2 separate regions of the Homo sapiens genome follow, and region 1 is linked to region 2. Evidence: fine-mapped expression QTL. Tissue or cell type: whole blood. Region 2 holds a variant in brackets; the other region holds the start of a gene. All regions are shown on one strand. Distances are between the middles of the regions.

Evidence for each region. PIP is the estimated chance that this variant, and not a neighbour inherited with it, causes the effect.
Region 1: it holds the start of CD2BP2, and the variant in region 2 is fine-mapped to the expression of CD2BP2 in whole blood (INTERVAL, PIP above 0.99).

Annotation. Positions count from the first base shown.
Region 1 is chr16:30,351,161-30,359,260 of GRCh38, forward strand. CD2BP2 (CD2 cytoplasmic tail binding protein 2) reads right to left here and starts at 4,148. Exons shown (of 7, transcript NM_006110.3): 1 at 4,052-4,148; 2 at 3,444-3,547; 3 at 3,024-3,162; 4 at 2,741-2,898; 5 at 2,208-2,640; 6 at 2,021-2,127; 7 at 1-1,935. The coding sequence starts at 3,521. The coding sequence ends at 1,825. TBC1D10B (TBC1 domain family member 10B) reads right to left here. Exons shown (of 9, transcript NM_015527.4): 7 at 8,012-8,100; 8 at 7,503-7,657; 9 at 5,942-7,413. The coding sequence ends at 6,784. It overlaps CD2BP2-DT (CD2BP2 divergent transcript), which reads left to right and starts at 4,274. Exons shown (of 2, transcript NR_184233.1): 1 at 4,274-4,460; 2 at 5,133-8,100. RefSeq lists enhancers at 3,162-4,113, 3,198-4,397, 4,088-4,382, 4,114-5,065, 4,120-4,179 and 1 more.
Region 2 is chr16:30,329,663-30,337,762 of GRCh38, forward strand. It overlaps the pseudogene SMG1P5 and the pseudogene LOC100421031. Among named protein-coding and RNA genes, the nearest start is that of CD2BP2, 22 kb to the right of the region's middle. RefSeq lists a silencer at 5,120-5,939 and an enhancer at 6,170-6,269. The variant G/A (reference allele first, on the strand shown) is at 3,456.

The DNA of each region.
Region 1 (8,100 bases), 21 kb after region 2:
CATCTCTGGGGGCTGTTATTCCACCCACCGTCATCAGTGAGGCGCCTTCAGGAGGGGCTGTGAGGTCACGTGAGGTCGGCTTCAGAAGGGCTAGGTTTGAGTGCCTGGAGGACACTGGCAGGAGGCGCCCCTGGGCTCCATCCATTTACCACGCACGCACTCAGCACCCCTGAGACCATCCCTGGGGCCTACAGGAGAACCCTGTACCTCAGCAGCCCTGAAACCTGCTTTCCACTTCCGGACCTTTCTGAAATCAAGACGCATCTTTAGATCAATGGCATCTTACTGTGTCACCGGCAGGCCTCTTCTTTCTTAGTGACGTTTAAAGGAAGGTATCTTACCCCTGATGGCTTCTTGGAGTGAATGAAATTCCGGTGTGAGCAGGCACTAGAAGGGGCCTCACAAGAGTGTCAGGTGACCCCACTCCGCCCTGGCCCCCAAGTCTTTCCTAGTTGCTCATCTGGCCCTTTCTGACCTGGGATCCCAAGTGTCCTGCAGCTCCAGTGCCCAGACCCCCATAACTAACAGACCCCACTAAAGCCACACACATGCTCAGCTCTCCAACCACGGTGGGGTCCAGGAGCCACCCCTCCCGCTAGGTGTGCCTAAACCATGGGGATCTGACTCAGGGGCTCTCTCTCGGCCTGGCTGCAAGCTGAAAACACCTGGGGGCTTCCAAAATGCCCAATGCCTGGGCCACAACCTAGACCAGCTCAATCTGAATCTCCAAAGAGATATTACAGCTCCCCAGGAGACTCCAAGGGGCAGCCAGAGTGCAAAACCGGAAGAAACCATCTAACGTGGGGCAAGGGAGGCGTAAGGCAATGCTGGTGGGGCGTGGAGGTGGAGGGTGCCAGGCCCAGGCTATAGAATTACATCTGTCTATTTCCCATGCCCCTGCCACCAGACTCTGAATTCCTGGAAGGGGACCAACCCAGCTACCTCAGTTTCCTCAAGGCACTAGCCCTGTGCCAGGCACATAGTGGGGTCCAGAGAATGTAGGCCGCAGGGCCTCCAAGGCCAGGCAGCAAAGGCTTTGTGCCAAGAAAGGTCTGGGAAAGGAGCCCACTGGGTCTGGGCCAGCCCTTTGATTCCTGTGATCTCCAGTGAGTCACTGCCCCTCTCTGTGCCAGTACAATGCACACTTGGCCCACACTTGGCCACTGAGTTTGCACTTCACTGAAGGGCTGTGGGAACGACGGCAAGGATAGAGGAAAGCCAGATTAGGGAAGACACTGGCTCTCAGAACCTTAGGGATCTCGGTCTTGGGCCACTCATCCCACTTCTGCCCAGCATCTAAGGAGCTTGAGAGGGTGAAGCGAGAGTAAGAGGGTTCCATGCTCACCCCCAACAGGGTCCCAATGTCTTCTCGATGCCCTGGTCCTTCTGGGCCTAAAACATCCACTTCTGGGGCTCTGTCCTCTGGTGGCTACAAGGATAAAGAATCTGAGGTCCTGAAAGCCAAAGACCTAAGAGGAATCGAACAAGAAACCTGGGAGAGGAGCACAGAGCAGCGCAGTTGGGGGTGTTTACACGGCAAGCAGAGTCCAGGCAGGGAGGCCACAGGATACCTGACAGGCACCTCCAAGAAGGATCTTCATGGGAGTACTCAGGGACCAAGACAAGTCCAAAGGGACTGTGGAGAAGGCCCCTGGCTTCTGGCCATCAGCACAGCCAAGGCCCCAGTACACAACTAAAGGCTTTTATTGGGAAAGGGAAATTGACTGAAAAATGGCCTCCAATTTCCTCGCTGCCTGAGACACTTGGTGCCTCCTCCACAAAGTCCAGGAAAGAAGGGCCCACCAAACTGGGCCCCCAGCAGGCTCAGGTGTAGAGGTCAAAGTCAATGCGTTTGGAGTTGTAGAACTGACCACCAGGGGGGTCCAGCTTCCGGCAATAAACACCGTCCGGGAAGTAGCCTTCACTCACCCAGGTCTGCAAGGAGAGGGCAGAGCTGGGGAACAACTGACAGGAGTGGGGGAAGCAGGGACAAGGCAGGAGGAGGGAGAAAGCAGCTCACCTGCATCTGGGCGCTGGTGAAGGGCCCATACAGCTCGGCATCCCCCGTGTTCTCCCACTTATATTCCCACATCACATCCACCAGACCATCTCCCCGCGACTCTGCTTCTAAAATAACAGGCAAAGCCATTTGGCCTCCAGTGTCTCACTTCCTACCCACTGCCCCCTCCTCTGTCCTCCAAGCTCACCTCCTCTCTGGGTAGGGGTTGGGGTCTCCAGTTCCTCCTCCGCCAACTCCTCAGCGAACATGTCCAGGGAGGGTGGGGGTGTGGGATTGTGGGGTCCTAGGGTCTGACACCCCAAACCCTTCAGACGCATAGCCAACCGTTCCCTTGTTTCCTGGTACACACCAAGGTTGCCCCGGGCCACCATCTGGTCGGCCAACCCGGAGAGCCGGTCCAGGCGCTGAGGGGAACTGGGTTGCCCAGGCCCCTTTCTCCCTTTGCCTCCTCCTCGGGCCCCCAGACGCCTCAGTGCCCCAGCCACTGTCTCTCTAGGCAATAGGAGCTCCAAAAGTCCCTCCAAGAGGGCTTGGGCACTCATTGAGGTCTGGCCCAAGCTGTCCTCCTCCTCCGAGTCTGAGGCCTGGCGCTGGCCAGGTGGCCGCTCCCGGATCTTCACCTGTAATGGGAAGATGGAGTGATTTCCCACCAACTGCCACGGGAGCAGGCCCAGCATCTGCCACTCCCAGGCCCCAGCCACGCCAGCCCCTGGGCCGCACCCAGTCAATGTTGTCCAGCCAGCTGTCTCGGATCTGAGCATCCCGGTTCAGGAAGTAGTTGCCATCGGCATCAAAGTGGCCTTCCTCCATCTCCTCCTGCAGGTTAAAGGGTGTGATCCGAACACCCCCCTCGCTGGGGAGTGTGGCTGCCTCCTGACCTGCACCAAAGACACAGGTGCCCTTTTCCAGGCATGGAAAAAAGAGACCGGAGCCTCCCTCGCTCCACACCACCAGAGGCCCCTACTTGTTTTTCCAGCAGAGTGTATTCTTGGGTACAGCTTACCTTCTACATCCTCTGAGGCCAAGATGTCATATTTGCTGGACCCCCCATCATCATCATCCTCCTCCTCATCGCTATCCAAAGAGTGTTTGCCTTTAAAGCGGCTCCCAGGACCCCCTGACCCAGCCACAGGGTCCACCAGCTGTGAGCAGGAGCCAGAAAGTTGAGAAATGCAGGTTACTGGCTACCTCCCCAAATACTTCCGGATCTGGACCCAAATATTCCCCAAATATTTCAGGATCTCGACTACTTCCCCAAATATTTCAGGAGCCACACTAAAGACGCTCCCAACCCATTCCTCAGAGAACCTGAAAAAACTAGGCTTTTCTCTGCCTGCCCGCCCCGCCCCTCTCCCGCCAGCTTTCTTCCTCTTCAGGCTTCTAGCTCCTCTTTCCCCCACACAAAGCAGTCTGGCCCCCTCACCTTCTTCTTGGGGACAATGATTTCATCCTCATCCTCCTCATCTCCCACGCCTTGGAAGGTCACTTTCCTCTTTGGCATGACGGGGCAAAGAGGTGTTTCTCAAGCTGAGGAAAGGATGCAGAGGAAGGGAACCGGGTGAGGAGGGGACTCGCCAACAGACGCAGCACAGCAAACATTTTTCCTGGTCTGTGACAGGTACAGTTTGGGAGCGGAGGGAGCACAAAAGCAGGGGCCGAAAGGAAGCTGGCAGCCAGGAGGCCTCCAGGACTTGGGTCTAGCATCCGCGAGTTAAACGGGGCGGGGACGGAGGAGCGGACCCTCTGGATCCCCCGACCCTGGCTGAAAGGAGACAGGCTTCACCACGTGACCGCCCCCAACTCCAGCCCCCGCAGTCTGCGCGCCACCGGCTCCACGGGCTGACCCCCGCTCTCTACCCTGGCTCTCTCGGAGCTCGCCGGGCCCCGGCAGACCCAGGACCTGGCGCTCTCGCCACCCCGTTCCTCCCTGCTCCGAACTCCCAATTCCGTGTGGTGAGCCCCAACTGTCCCGGGCTGTGTACAACTTAGAGGGCCACGGGGATTCGGGCGGTCCCACCCTCGCGCACTCACCTGGGAATCCGCGGAAGGCGAGGTGGAAAAAAGAAGAGATGCTTGCGCCAGGGCTACATCCGGGGCACCCGGCCGCCATCACCCGGAAGAGGACTGCGGAAGGCGCCCGGGAAGCCCGGAAGTGGCTTCACTCGGGTTAGGGAACTAACTGGAAGAGCGGGCGGAAGTATGCGATAAGCGAGCGAAGACGCCTCCACCCTCTCTCCCGCCAGAAGTGACGTCAGTCACGTGGGAGGACAATGGTGAGAAGAGGGAACCTAAGAATTCCTGGACTCTGACTGGGCGTGAGAAATGGCCGGAAGTAGCTTCGAGTCCGTCATTCAAGCAGTAGAGGCTCTGGAGAAAAACTGGAGCGCATCTGCTTAAAGGGCCGCCCAGGGTCAGGATGGAGGGGCAAAGTCCGAGCAGGGTCAGTGGGTTGCTGCTCCGTTTTCCTGTCCTGGGTTCAAGTCACCCTTCCCCCAGGGCTAAGGGCTCAGCGCCCCTACCGTCTCGTTAGAAATCCTGCCTTCCCATTCCTATGGTCCAGTGGTCAGCCCTCCTAGCCTGAGAGGTGCAGCCTTGCCTCTCCGAGGGGAAGCCTGACTCTCCCGATGGCCAGCCTGGGGCCCCTGGACGGCTCTCCGGGCACTTTCTGAACACACCTCCCTTTAGGACCCAGGGGAAATAATTTGTCCCACGCCCATACCCTGGGCGAGTTCCTGGTTTCTGAGGTGGGAGAGCCATCACTGGAGAGGTGGCATTGGCGCCAGTACTCAGGCCAGAAGCCCCTTGTGCCCTGCTCTCAGGTAGGCCTGGAAAAGGGCAACAGTGCCTCTCTGCAGCATGAAGCCCCCCTGAGCAAACAGGGCCTAGCAACTCCTGCCCAGGTAGCGGAATGTGGCCCAAGCAGAAGGGGGAATTGGGGAGGTAGCGGGGATCAGCCCCTGTGCTGGGACCCCTAGCTCTTGACACTCGGAGCCTGCATCCCCCTAAGCCAAGACTGTGCGCAGGCAGCACGTGCTGAAGCCAGACGAGGACAGCATGAGAGTTCCCCTACTCTTCCCCCAGGCAACTAGATGGGCCACTTCTCTCTCCCTAGGGGTTTCCTCCCATATTGGATCACGATGAAAACTGCACAGAAAGTCCGTGCTCAGTTTCTTCCATGGTTACAGAACACAGGCCCCAGACCAGGAAGGCATTCTGCTAAAGAAGGGGACCCGAAACCTCAGCTACCAGCGCCGATGGTTCATCCTCCGAGGAAACCTCCTCTTCTACCTAGAACACTAGACCGACCATGCACCCCTGAGCCTCATCCTGTTAGAGAACTGCCAGGTGGAACCACACCTTAAGGCTGCAGAACCCTATGCCTTTACCATCCTGACCCCTGGGGTGGAGGGCACAGGTGGGCGGGCCTACAAGCTGGCTGCAGAAACCCAGGAAGAGCTGGAGACTTGGCTGTGGGCACTGGCTGGCGCGAGCTGGAGGCGGCTGGCTGGGCTGCTGTCCCCCCTCCCCCCCCACCAAAACCCAATACTGGGAGCTGTGCCAGGCAACTGGCCAAGAACCCATCTCATCCCCAGAGGACAGTGGCTTTCTAGCCACTGTGAGTACCCCCTCCAGCTTCCAGGAGTTGCATGAGCACTTTGGGAAGGAGATCCGGGTGCTGCACGTGGTACATAGAGAGCTCCAGGCAGCCAGTGACAATGGAGACAGCAGATCCCAGGCAAAGATGGAGCAGGAGCTCAACCAGTGTCTGATGAGTGACTGAGAGATGGACCCAAAGCTAAGAGGTACCTACTTGCCAAGACAGCAGACTGCTTCAACAGAGACCCAGGTCCTGGCTCTGTCCCTCCCTCCCTCGTCCTTACCCCATCCCCCCCTCATCAAATAACAAGGCAGAAAACAGGCCCAGGTACAACAGCAGGTTCTTTTCCAATTCCTCAAAGCGCTGCATGGGGTGGGGGCAGAGACAGAAGAGAATGTAAACATTGGGTTCCACCCCCTGGAGCTCAAGGGAAGACCCTTACCCAGATAGGGACTAACTGGAGGGGTGGAAGGGAACAAGGTGAAAGGTATGGGTCCTGGTGAGACAAAAGCAGGGGGGCCTGAGAACACAGAGCAAGGTGGGTTTGGAGGGAGCACAGCAGGGTGCAGGAAGGGAGATGGGGGACATTTCCTATTCCAGTGCATGTCCCCTTAAATAAACTGGGTACAGGAGCATTATGGAAGGAGAACCAAAGGACAGAAGACAAAGCGAGCACCCCCACCCCAGGCCAACGCCATCCTCTGTACACAATTACAACACAGGTCCAGAATGAGAGCCCTGGCCAGGAAGTGGGGGAGACAGGGAGGGCTGAAGACAGGGAAAAGGAAGCCAGCTCCACCTCATGGTAAGGGGAGCTATGGAGTGTAAGAATCTGAAACTGCTGACTCCCATCACCAGGAGTCACCCCTGGGATGACAACGGGCCATTCAGGACAGCACCTAGGAGGGGACCCAGAGGGAACTGGGGCAGGAGCGACAGAGACCCCAGCTGAGCCTCATGGGAGATGAGAGGCTCCAGACTCATTTGCAGCTGCCCATCTGTCCTGCCCGTGTAGGGATCAGCAGCTGGCGAGGAGATGGGGAACCAAGCCACTTTCCCCAGCAAGGGACAGCCTGACAAGGTGCTAGGGGGTGGCACCTTGGGCCAGGCCTGTTCTTGGCTGAGGGAAAGAGGGGGGCCATGCAGTCCAGCCCCAGGGCAGAGGTCAGAAGTAAGCGTCCTGCCGGGCCTCGGCTGAGGGCCTGTCCCCACCATCATGGGGGCCTGGGGGCCCATCTGCCTTTCGACGCAGCGAAAGCTTCCGGCCTTGAGCCTTCTTCTCCTGCTTCTGCCGCTCCTTCTCCTGCTTCTCTCGCTCCTTTTCCTGCTTCTCTCGCTCTTTCTCCTGCTTCTGCCGCTCCTTCTCCCGCTCCTTCTCCTGTTTCTGCCGCTCCTTCTCCTGTTTCTGCCGCTCCTTCTCCTGCTTCCGGGTCTCCTTGCTGGAACCCAAGGGGGTGCTATTGCCAGTGGGTGAGGGAAGGGATGGATGCAGTCCCTCAGCAGTGACCACAGGCCCTGGGGCAGGCCCAGCACTGGCTCTGCGGACGGGGGGCGGCGGGGACGGGGCCCCTCCAGCTGCCCGGGAGCCTCGGCTCTTGAGGCCAGGGAGGCTGAGGAGGCTGGAGGAGGGGCCCAGGGGTGGCTGTTGCCGCCGGCGCTCCTCGTGGATGGCCCGGGACCCATGCAGTCGCCGTGAGGGCCGATACTGCAGCTCCCCCCGCGTTTCCCGCCACTTCTTGAGCTGGGCTGCATTCTCCCGCTCAATCAGTGCTTCTGTCACCGGCAGATTGGTCACCTGCACAGAGAGGAAATGCGTACCAGAATGGAGCTGAGGGTGGGAGCGGGCTGAGGCAGGCAGGGGCTGCGTTGAGGGCACAGGCCTACCTCATGCACCAGGAAGTCTTCCTGCATGCACTGCTGGGGCAGGTTACGCAGCTGCTCCATGGTCTCATACATGCCTTGGCAGGAGCGCAGCTTCTCCACTGAGCCCAGCGTGTGGCGCAGCAGGACCAGGGCCACCCGGAAGATGATCTTAACGCCTGCAGGGGTGGAGAGTAGAGAGCATGGGGTGGTCAGACCCAAGATCTCAGCCTGTCCTGATCAGGATAGACTCACAGCCCCCATCCCCATCTACTGCCAATCTCAGATGAGGAAACTGAGGCCCTGTGAAAGTACATGAGCTGCTATCAGTCTCAGGATCTTGGCAGGGAGAGCAGGCTCTGGGTTGGTGGCAGAACTAAAATCAGGCCTGTTTCTCCAGCCCCCAGCTGCTTATGGTGAAACCTCCACCCAACAAGTACCTTTTGTCCATGGACCACCAGAAATATGACAGAACCCCTGGTAGCCACCACAGAAACCCCAGCCCCTCATGGCCTGGAGGGCCACAGAAGTACCTTCACAGAAAAACATGTCCCAGACACGCAGCACCGACGCCCAGGGCAGGGTGCGGGCGAAGATGCACATGAACCACTCCGTCATGTAG
Region 2 (8,100 bases):
AGACCAGCCCAGGCAGCATGGCAAAACCCCGTCTCTACAGAAAACAAAAAAAAGTAGCTGGGGGTGGTGACATGCACCTGTGGTCCCAGCTATTGGGAGGGTGAGGTAGGAGGACTTATTGAGCCTGGGAGGTGGAGGCTGCAGTGAGCTGAGATGGTTCCACTGCACTCCAACCTGGGCAATGAAGTGAGACTCTGTTTCAGAAAAAGAGAGAGGCGGCCAGGCGTGGTGGCTCACGCCTGGAATCCCAGCACTTTGGGAGGCCGAAGCGGGTGGATCACCTGAGGTCAGCAGTTCAAGACCAGCCTGGCCAACATGGTGAAATCCTATCTCCACTAAAAACACAAAAATTAGCCGGGCATAGTGGCATGCACCTGTATTCCCAGCTACTTGGGAGGCTGAGACAGGAGAATCACTTGAACCAGGAGGTGGAGGTTGCAAGTGAGCTGAGATTGTGCCACTATACTCCAGCCTGGGCGACAAAGTAAAACTCTGTCTCAAAAAAAAAAAGAGAGAGAGAGAGAGGAAAAATAAATAAATTAGTCAGGTGTGGTGGTATGCACCTGTGGTCCCAGCTACTCAGGAGGCTAAGGCGGGAGGATTCCCAGAGCCCAGGAAGTCAAGGCTGCAGTGAGCAGTGACTGCACCACTGCACTCCAGCCTGGGCAACAGAGCAAGAGCATATCTCAAAAAAGAGGAAAGAAAAGAAAAGAAAAACATAAAAACAAACGTTCCTTTAGTTTTAATTTTTATTTTTTAGTTTATTATGGCTGTTTTACTCTCCTCCAAGTAAAACTGCCATACACAATTTGCTGAAATTTTCCTTAGTGTACTTTGAAATCTGTGGAACAGAACTGGCAATCGCTAAATTCTATTTGACTCTAGTTCCATTTAAAATTAGACTGGTGTGAAGTAACTGCGGTTTTTGCCAAAACTGCAATTACTTTTGCACCCACCTAATACGTATAAAATATGTAACTTCACTTAATTTTATCCTTTATGTATTTCCCTATATTATGTACCTATGGACATCAAACTTACTACAGACTGATAAAAGGCTGAATAGACAACTCTGGTTTCAAAAATCCAGCTTCTCACAACATCAGACATACTAGTATACAGCTTTTCTAATTTCACAACATATTTCCATTTTTTGGTCTTTCACAATAGAGAAGATGTGTATACTTTTGAATACTCTGCTCTGTCTACAATCTACCAAAATTGGAAGGTGTTTTTATTATACAGTTTCATCCTTTTAGAAATACAGAAAGATCCTAAGTTTGGGCACAGTAAGACACTCAATACAGATCTACTACTAAACAAGTAAGACCAATTACACAATTAATGTCCTAATACCCCGAGTGGAAAAGTAAAATCTACTTGTTTTCTGTTGACTTGAATGCCTTCTCTTTTGTTGAATTAATCAATCTATTTGACTCCAATGTCAAATTAATCAATGTCACTTTAGAATATTAAAATGTACAATTATGAATTACACATTTAATTTTAAAACACATCATTCTGATCTCTGTCTTGATTGATACTAGAAGATTATCTTCCAAACTAAGGTGGAAAAAATGACAGACTTTAGCTATTGGCAATGATAGGTCATTTTTTTAGGGAAGAGGAGTAAAGAGGGCAACCTCCATAGGTCAGATATCCCTTTGTTCTAAGAAGCCACCACCCCTGTTTCTTCATATGAAAAAACCCAGAGGCATCCAGTGGTTCCCAAAACCTTCTCAACTTTATGCCTGAGGAACCCACAGATTTCAAATAATACAACTGACCTAAGACCACTCATTTGTTTAACCATTCTTTTTTTAATTTTTTATTTTTATTTTTTTGAGAAGGAGTCTTGCTCTGTTGCCCAGGCTGGAGTGCAGTGGTGTGATGTCGCTCACTACAACCTCCGCCTCTCAGGTTCAAGTGATTCTCCTGCCTCAGCCTCCCGAGTAACTGGGATTACAGGCATGCACCACCACATCCCGCTAATTTATTTATTTATTTTTTTTAGTAGAGACGGGGTTTCACCATGTCGGTTGGCCAGGCTGGTCTTGAACTCGTGACCTCAGGTGATCCACCCACCTCAGCCTCCCAAAGTGCTGGGATTACAGGCGTGAGCCACTGCCCCCGGCCTATTAACCATTCTTAAATGTCGGGTGCGGTGGCTCACACCTGTAATCTCAACACTTTGGGAGGCTGAAGGTGGGCAGATTGCTTGAGTTCAGGGGTTCAAGACCAGCCTGGGCAACGTGGTGAAAACCCCATCTCTACAAAAAATACAAAAATGAGCCAGGCTGTTGGCAAGCGCCTGTAGCCCCAGCTACTTGTGGATGCTGAGGCAGGAGGCTTGAGCCTGGGAGGTCGAGACTGCAGTAAGCCAAGTATCTGTGCCGCTGCACTCCAGCCTGGGTGACACAGCAAGACCCTGTCTCAAAAAAATTGACAGAAGAGTTGACTGAGAGCACAGTGAATGAAAAGGAAGACTATAAGCCAGTGCCATATAAATGCTTACTGTTGGAGGTATGCTTCTATGGAACACGGGTTTGCTCTCTTGCCATATGACATTCACGTATTCAGCCACCTGGAACACTTCTTGTCAGTATGTGTGAAGTATCATGTGTGGTCAAAATTGACTCAACAGTCATTTTCCACACCAACTGGCAAACTAACACTAAAAGAAATCAACAAGTATTGCTTTTTCAAAAGCCTAAATCGGCTGAGTGCGGTGACTTACACCTGTAATCCCAGCACTTTGGGAGGCCAAAGCAGGCGGATCACCTGAGTCAGGAGTCCAAGAACAGGCCGGCCAACATGGTGGAATCCCGTCTCTACTAAAAATACAAAAATTAGCTGGACGCCTGTAATCCCAGCTACTCAGGAGGCTGAGGCAGGAGAATTTTTCCCTGTAACCAGGAGGCAGAGGCTGCAGTGAGTCGAGATTACACCACTGCACTCCAGCCTGGGAGACAGAGCAAGACTCCATCTCAGGAAGACAAAAAAAAAAAAAGCCTACATCAAGGAAAACAGAACCAAAACACCAGGGACAAAATGGTACATAAGAGGCAAAAAAATTTTCACCAAAATTATTCAGATGAACCATAATAAATGTGCCTGCATCTGAAGATGTTCTAAACCTTCATTTAAGTAAGAAGCAAGATCAAGATCCATTCCGTCAGTTACCTGGAGTCTGTCATCTTTCGGAATAGGGGACGGAATCACCTCAAATTTAACTAATAAAAATTTATGACTTGGCAAACACCCCAGGTATTTTTATTGACTAACAAATCAGCTATGACAATCTTAGCAACAAATCAAGTTATGCTATGGGGTATGTCCACACTTCCCTGTTCCCTCTACAACAGGAGAAAATCAAATCTTTCCAACATCCTAACAAACTGTTACTCCCTGTAACCAAATGTATCACAGTATCGTCTACCAAGGCGTTACATCCT[G/A]AAACTTTCCTACAAAAAGCACAGCTTCAAAGAAACCTTGCAAGCTTTCTTGTAAGCTCCTCCCTTCCCACATCGCCCCTCCCCAGAGCCGAGAAATAAAGCACTTGAAAGAAACAACATGGATAATATTTATTAATAGCTCATGTACATATTCCATAACTACATAAGCCATTTGGCTTCATACCTGTCAGCAATGAAGTCAGCTGGCCCTAGCACGTGGCTGCGACTCTTCTCTATTTATTTAGAACTATAAACTACAATTTACACTTTACAAAAGCTGTAGGACTATTTGGGAAGGCACTTTATTCTTCTAAAAGGTTACTAAATTCTCTTATATACTTATACTGATCACAATACTGAAAAATAATAGAAAATCCATTGTCATTCATTTACCACCTGATTTGTTAGATGCCAGATAATCAAATTTCACACATTTCAATAAAAAGGCAAAACTAAGCATGTCAATCATAGGAAGAAAAATACTTAACTAATTTTATTTAAAGCACTCACAAACTCTTAAGTGGTACAAGACAAGCCAACGCTGTTTATCGAACAATATTTTTTTTTACGACTAAACATCTCAATTCTAGACTCAGGCACTAATTATTAAAGTCATCTAGTTATATACACCAATTCTCAACAGACACAGTTTTTTTTGGAAAGGCATATTAAACAGACTAAGATGTGTACTACCCATTAGCCAAAGATAATTTTATTGATTTTTCTAATGAGTCTTCAAATGTTACATTCTAACATCTTAGCAAATTATTTCCAAATACTGCTGGAATTACATGTAACTATCAGGAAACAAAAGGGCTTCTCAACAACTTGTGCGTTCTACATTATCTGGCCAGTTTCCGGACAATTATAATACAATTGTGCTCCAAAGCAGGAGAGTTCCATGAATCAATTGCCCCTAAAATATATTTCTGTATATTTAAGGAGTTCTAAGCATTGGGTTAAATTCCAAACAGACTCTGAATACAAGCATTTATTTAGTAAGAGAGGTTAGAATAAATCAATCCTAAATTAGGCACAGCTACCCTCCCCCCATTGATCAAAAAGATAGGAAATTACATTTATTTAAAAAGTTAATGTTCCTAATATATTCAAATCTAACTAAGCCCCAAAACGGTCTGAGATCAAATCCTCCATAAAAGAGGAAATTCTCTAGACTTCTAAGTGGGTGCCCAAAGAGTTCACTCAAGTGTCCAGGTATGAATTACGATTCACCAGAGTAACCGGCCTTGCACTTAGGGAAAACTTCCATCGCCCAAGACCAGAGTGGGTCGATCCCATCAACAGTCACACAATCTCATCTCATGCTCCACTAATGAATGTTCTGCCTAAAGTCAGAGCAATGCCTTGGCTGGAGTTTTGTTTTGGTTTTTTCAATATTAACATGTGGGGGTCACAGAAAGGAACAGAGGCTACAAGAGCTCTCACGTGGCGGCTGAAAGACTGGGGAACCGAGAAAGTGAATGAGTAACAGGGAGGGTCCTGGACTCTCAGGATCTCCCAACTCGGGGTCAGGGGGAGGCGGTAAGTGGAATGCCCCCCCCACCACCCCCGCCTCTTTCTCACCTCCTGGTCCCGACCCTAGGTCAGTGCCACCGCCGGGAGCCCCGGGGCTCGGCTTCAGCCCCGGGCTGAACAAGCAGGGAGGGGAGAGGCACTTAGGCCTCGCCTCCCCGCGGCCTTCCTCCCCTAGCCGGGGAGGAGGAGACCCAGGAAGCCGCGCCCGGCTCCGGTGGGTGGAGGGCCTAGGCCGCGCCTCCCAGCCCCGCGGCCCTAGGCCTCGGCCCGCCCGAGGCGGAGCCCGGGAGGTCGGGGCGGGGTCCCGGGCCGGTCACCCACCTGGGTTGCCAGTCATTCCAGCTCCGCGAATAGTTGGTGCCGCCGCTGCTCAGCCGAGACCCCGGGGCTCTGCGGCTCATTACCTTCCCCGACACGACATGGCCAAGCGCCGCCGCCCGAACCGGCCGCCGCCGACACCCCGCTCCGGCCCGGGGCTGAGGAGGAAGCCGAGAAGGAGGAGGAGGAGGCGGCGGCGGAGGGCGGGGGAAGAGGACGGCCGTTCCGGGTTCCGCCTGAGCCCGCAGGGCAGGACGAGGGAGCGGCGCGGTGAGAGAGGCGGATGAAGGCGAGGCGACGTCTCTTCCAGGGCCGTGCGCGGCCCACGACGCTGGGGCCCCGGAGGACGAGGAGGACGAGGAGCAGGCGGTGGCGGCAGCTCCTCACGCTCACACGGCCACTGCTTCCCCGCCTCCCGGCTCCGCCCGCCGCGCCGCCGCTGTCGTACGGCAAGCTGGGAGCGAGAGGCGGGGTCGGCCCCGCCGGGCCTGGGGAGAGAGGCGGGTCCTGTCGGCGGGGCGGGGCCGATAGCAGGCAGCCCCGCCCCCCACGGCCCCAGGCTCTTGGACGGCGAAGCTGGGCATGGTGGTGGGCAACTGTAATCCCAGCTACTCAGGAGGCTGAGGCAGGAGAATTGCTTGAACCTGGGAGGCAGAGGTTGCAGTGAGCTGAGATCACGCCATTGCACTCTAGCCCAGGCAACAGAAGTGAAACTCTGCCTAAAAAAAAAAGAAAAGAAAAGAAAGAAAGAAAGGTGGCCCCGTTAATGTTTATGCCAAGACAGCCGGCATGACCTGGAAGTGTCCCAAGCCACAGGGCATCTTGTTTCCGGGGAGGATGAATGAATCAAATCGCACCTATTTTGAGGCAAGCAAGGACTCTGTGACTTCAGGAGCCCTGGTGGGTGGACAGAAGCTCCCTGCTCCCCCAGCCTGTCTACCCAGCAGCGCTTTGGCCAGTCCCATTCCTGTACTTCTGAGCCTGCCTGTCAGTCCCTCCTCACACGCACACCGTGGCTTTGTGCCTGGTACTGAGTGTCCCGGAGCCCCAAACCACAGGGTCAACCCCATGAAAGAAACCGGGACTCTGCTCTCATCCACTCGCCCCCACCCCCCGCGTAATCCCCTGGTGCTCACACAGCCCCACCGTAAAGTTTTTGTAGCTCCCTGGCAGACTTGTGCTCCTGTTTGCCAGATCAAAGCCCAGTGACCTGAGCGGCCTGTCCCCAGCAGAGGCCACTAGTCCCTGTGGACCCACCCCATTGGGAAAGGCATGGGTTGAACTTTAACCATTAGGCTCAGGGATTGGGATGAGTTTCTACAAAAAGAGGTGGGTACACGCCAGTCCACAGTGGTCCTGATCAAAGTGAGAACAGACAGCAGGGAACATCACCCTCTTCAGATTGGAGTCAGTGGGAACAGACCTAAGATGTTGGGGAAGAACACTTGGAAGACCTCAGCTTTCTCCTGGGTTGAGCAGATGTGGGCCCCTCTCTGGAGTCGTTCGATGAGGCCAGGGTGATGGTGTTCTCAGCGTTCCTGTGCGCGGCGAACCAGCAGTAACACTTGTAAGTAGAGCCTCAAATTTCCCAAATGCAACTGGATCCTTGTCTTAGCTGATGGGGTCTTTCAAGATGAGAGAGTAGAGACCATCCCGAGCCACACGGGTTCAGATTTCCACTCTGTTTCTATTTTTTTTTTTTTTTTAAGATGGAGTCTCGCTCTATGGCCCAGGCTGGAGTACAGTGGCGCGATCTCAGCGGCTCACCACAACCTCCACCTCCCGGGTTCAAGCGATTCTCCTGCCTCAGCTTCCTGACTAGCTGGGACTACAGACGCATGCCACCACTCCTGGCTAATTTTTTGTATTTTTAGTAGAGACAGGGTTTCACCACGTTAGCCAGGCTGGTCTCGAACTCCTGACCTCGCGATCCGCCCGTCTCAGCCTCCCAAAGTGCTGGGATTACAGGCGTCAGCCACCACGCCCGGCCCTCTTTTTTTCTTTTTTTGATGAAGTTTTGCTCTTTTGCCCAGGCTATAGTGCAATGGCATGATCTCGGCTCACTGCAACATCTGCCCCCCAGGTTCAAGTGAATCTCCTGCCTCAGCCTCCAAAGTAACTGGGACTACAGGCACCCACCACCGCACCCGGCTAATTTTTTGTATTTTGGTAGAGATGGGGTTTCACCATGTTGGCCAGGCTGGTCTCGAACTCCTGACCTCAGGTGATCCACACACCTCAGCCTCCCAAAGTGCTAGGATTACAGGCATGAGCCACCGTGCCTGGCCACACTCCTTTTCTCTTGTATTTGGTGACCTTGGGTGAATCGTTTAGCCTCCGTTTCAGGGGTCCTGGGGAGGGCAAGATGCCGGGAGCAGGCGGGTAGTCCGTGTTCGCACAGGACACACTGGCATGACTCACCATCCAGACCCGGCGGAATGGCTTGCACTAACCAGTCACGATCGCTCCTAAACTCTTCGGCAAAGAACGCTTCCAAGCAAACCTGTAGCAAATAAACCACTCAGCCAACTCTGCCAAGAAACTGCCCCATGCCAGCCCCTCCTGGCTTCACGGTCAGTGCCTTGTGACCTTGGACGAGGCCCTTCCTCTTTCTGGGTCTCAGGTGCTTCCTCCGTAGAATGAGAGGCTGCTTTGGCAGCTGCCAAGTTCTCTTCTAACTCAAATCTTCCACGCGTTCCATGTTTGGGCCATTGAAAGAGCATGGGCTTAGGAGCCAGACCCCAGGCATGCGGTGCTACTGACGCTTGCTGAGGTGGAGCTTCGGCAGGTC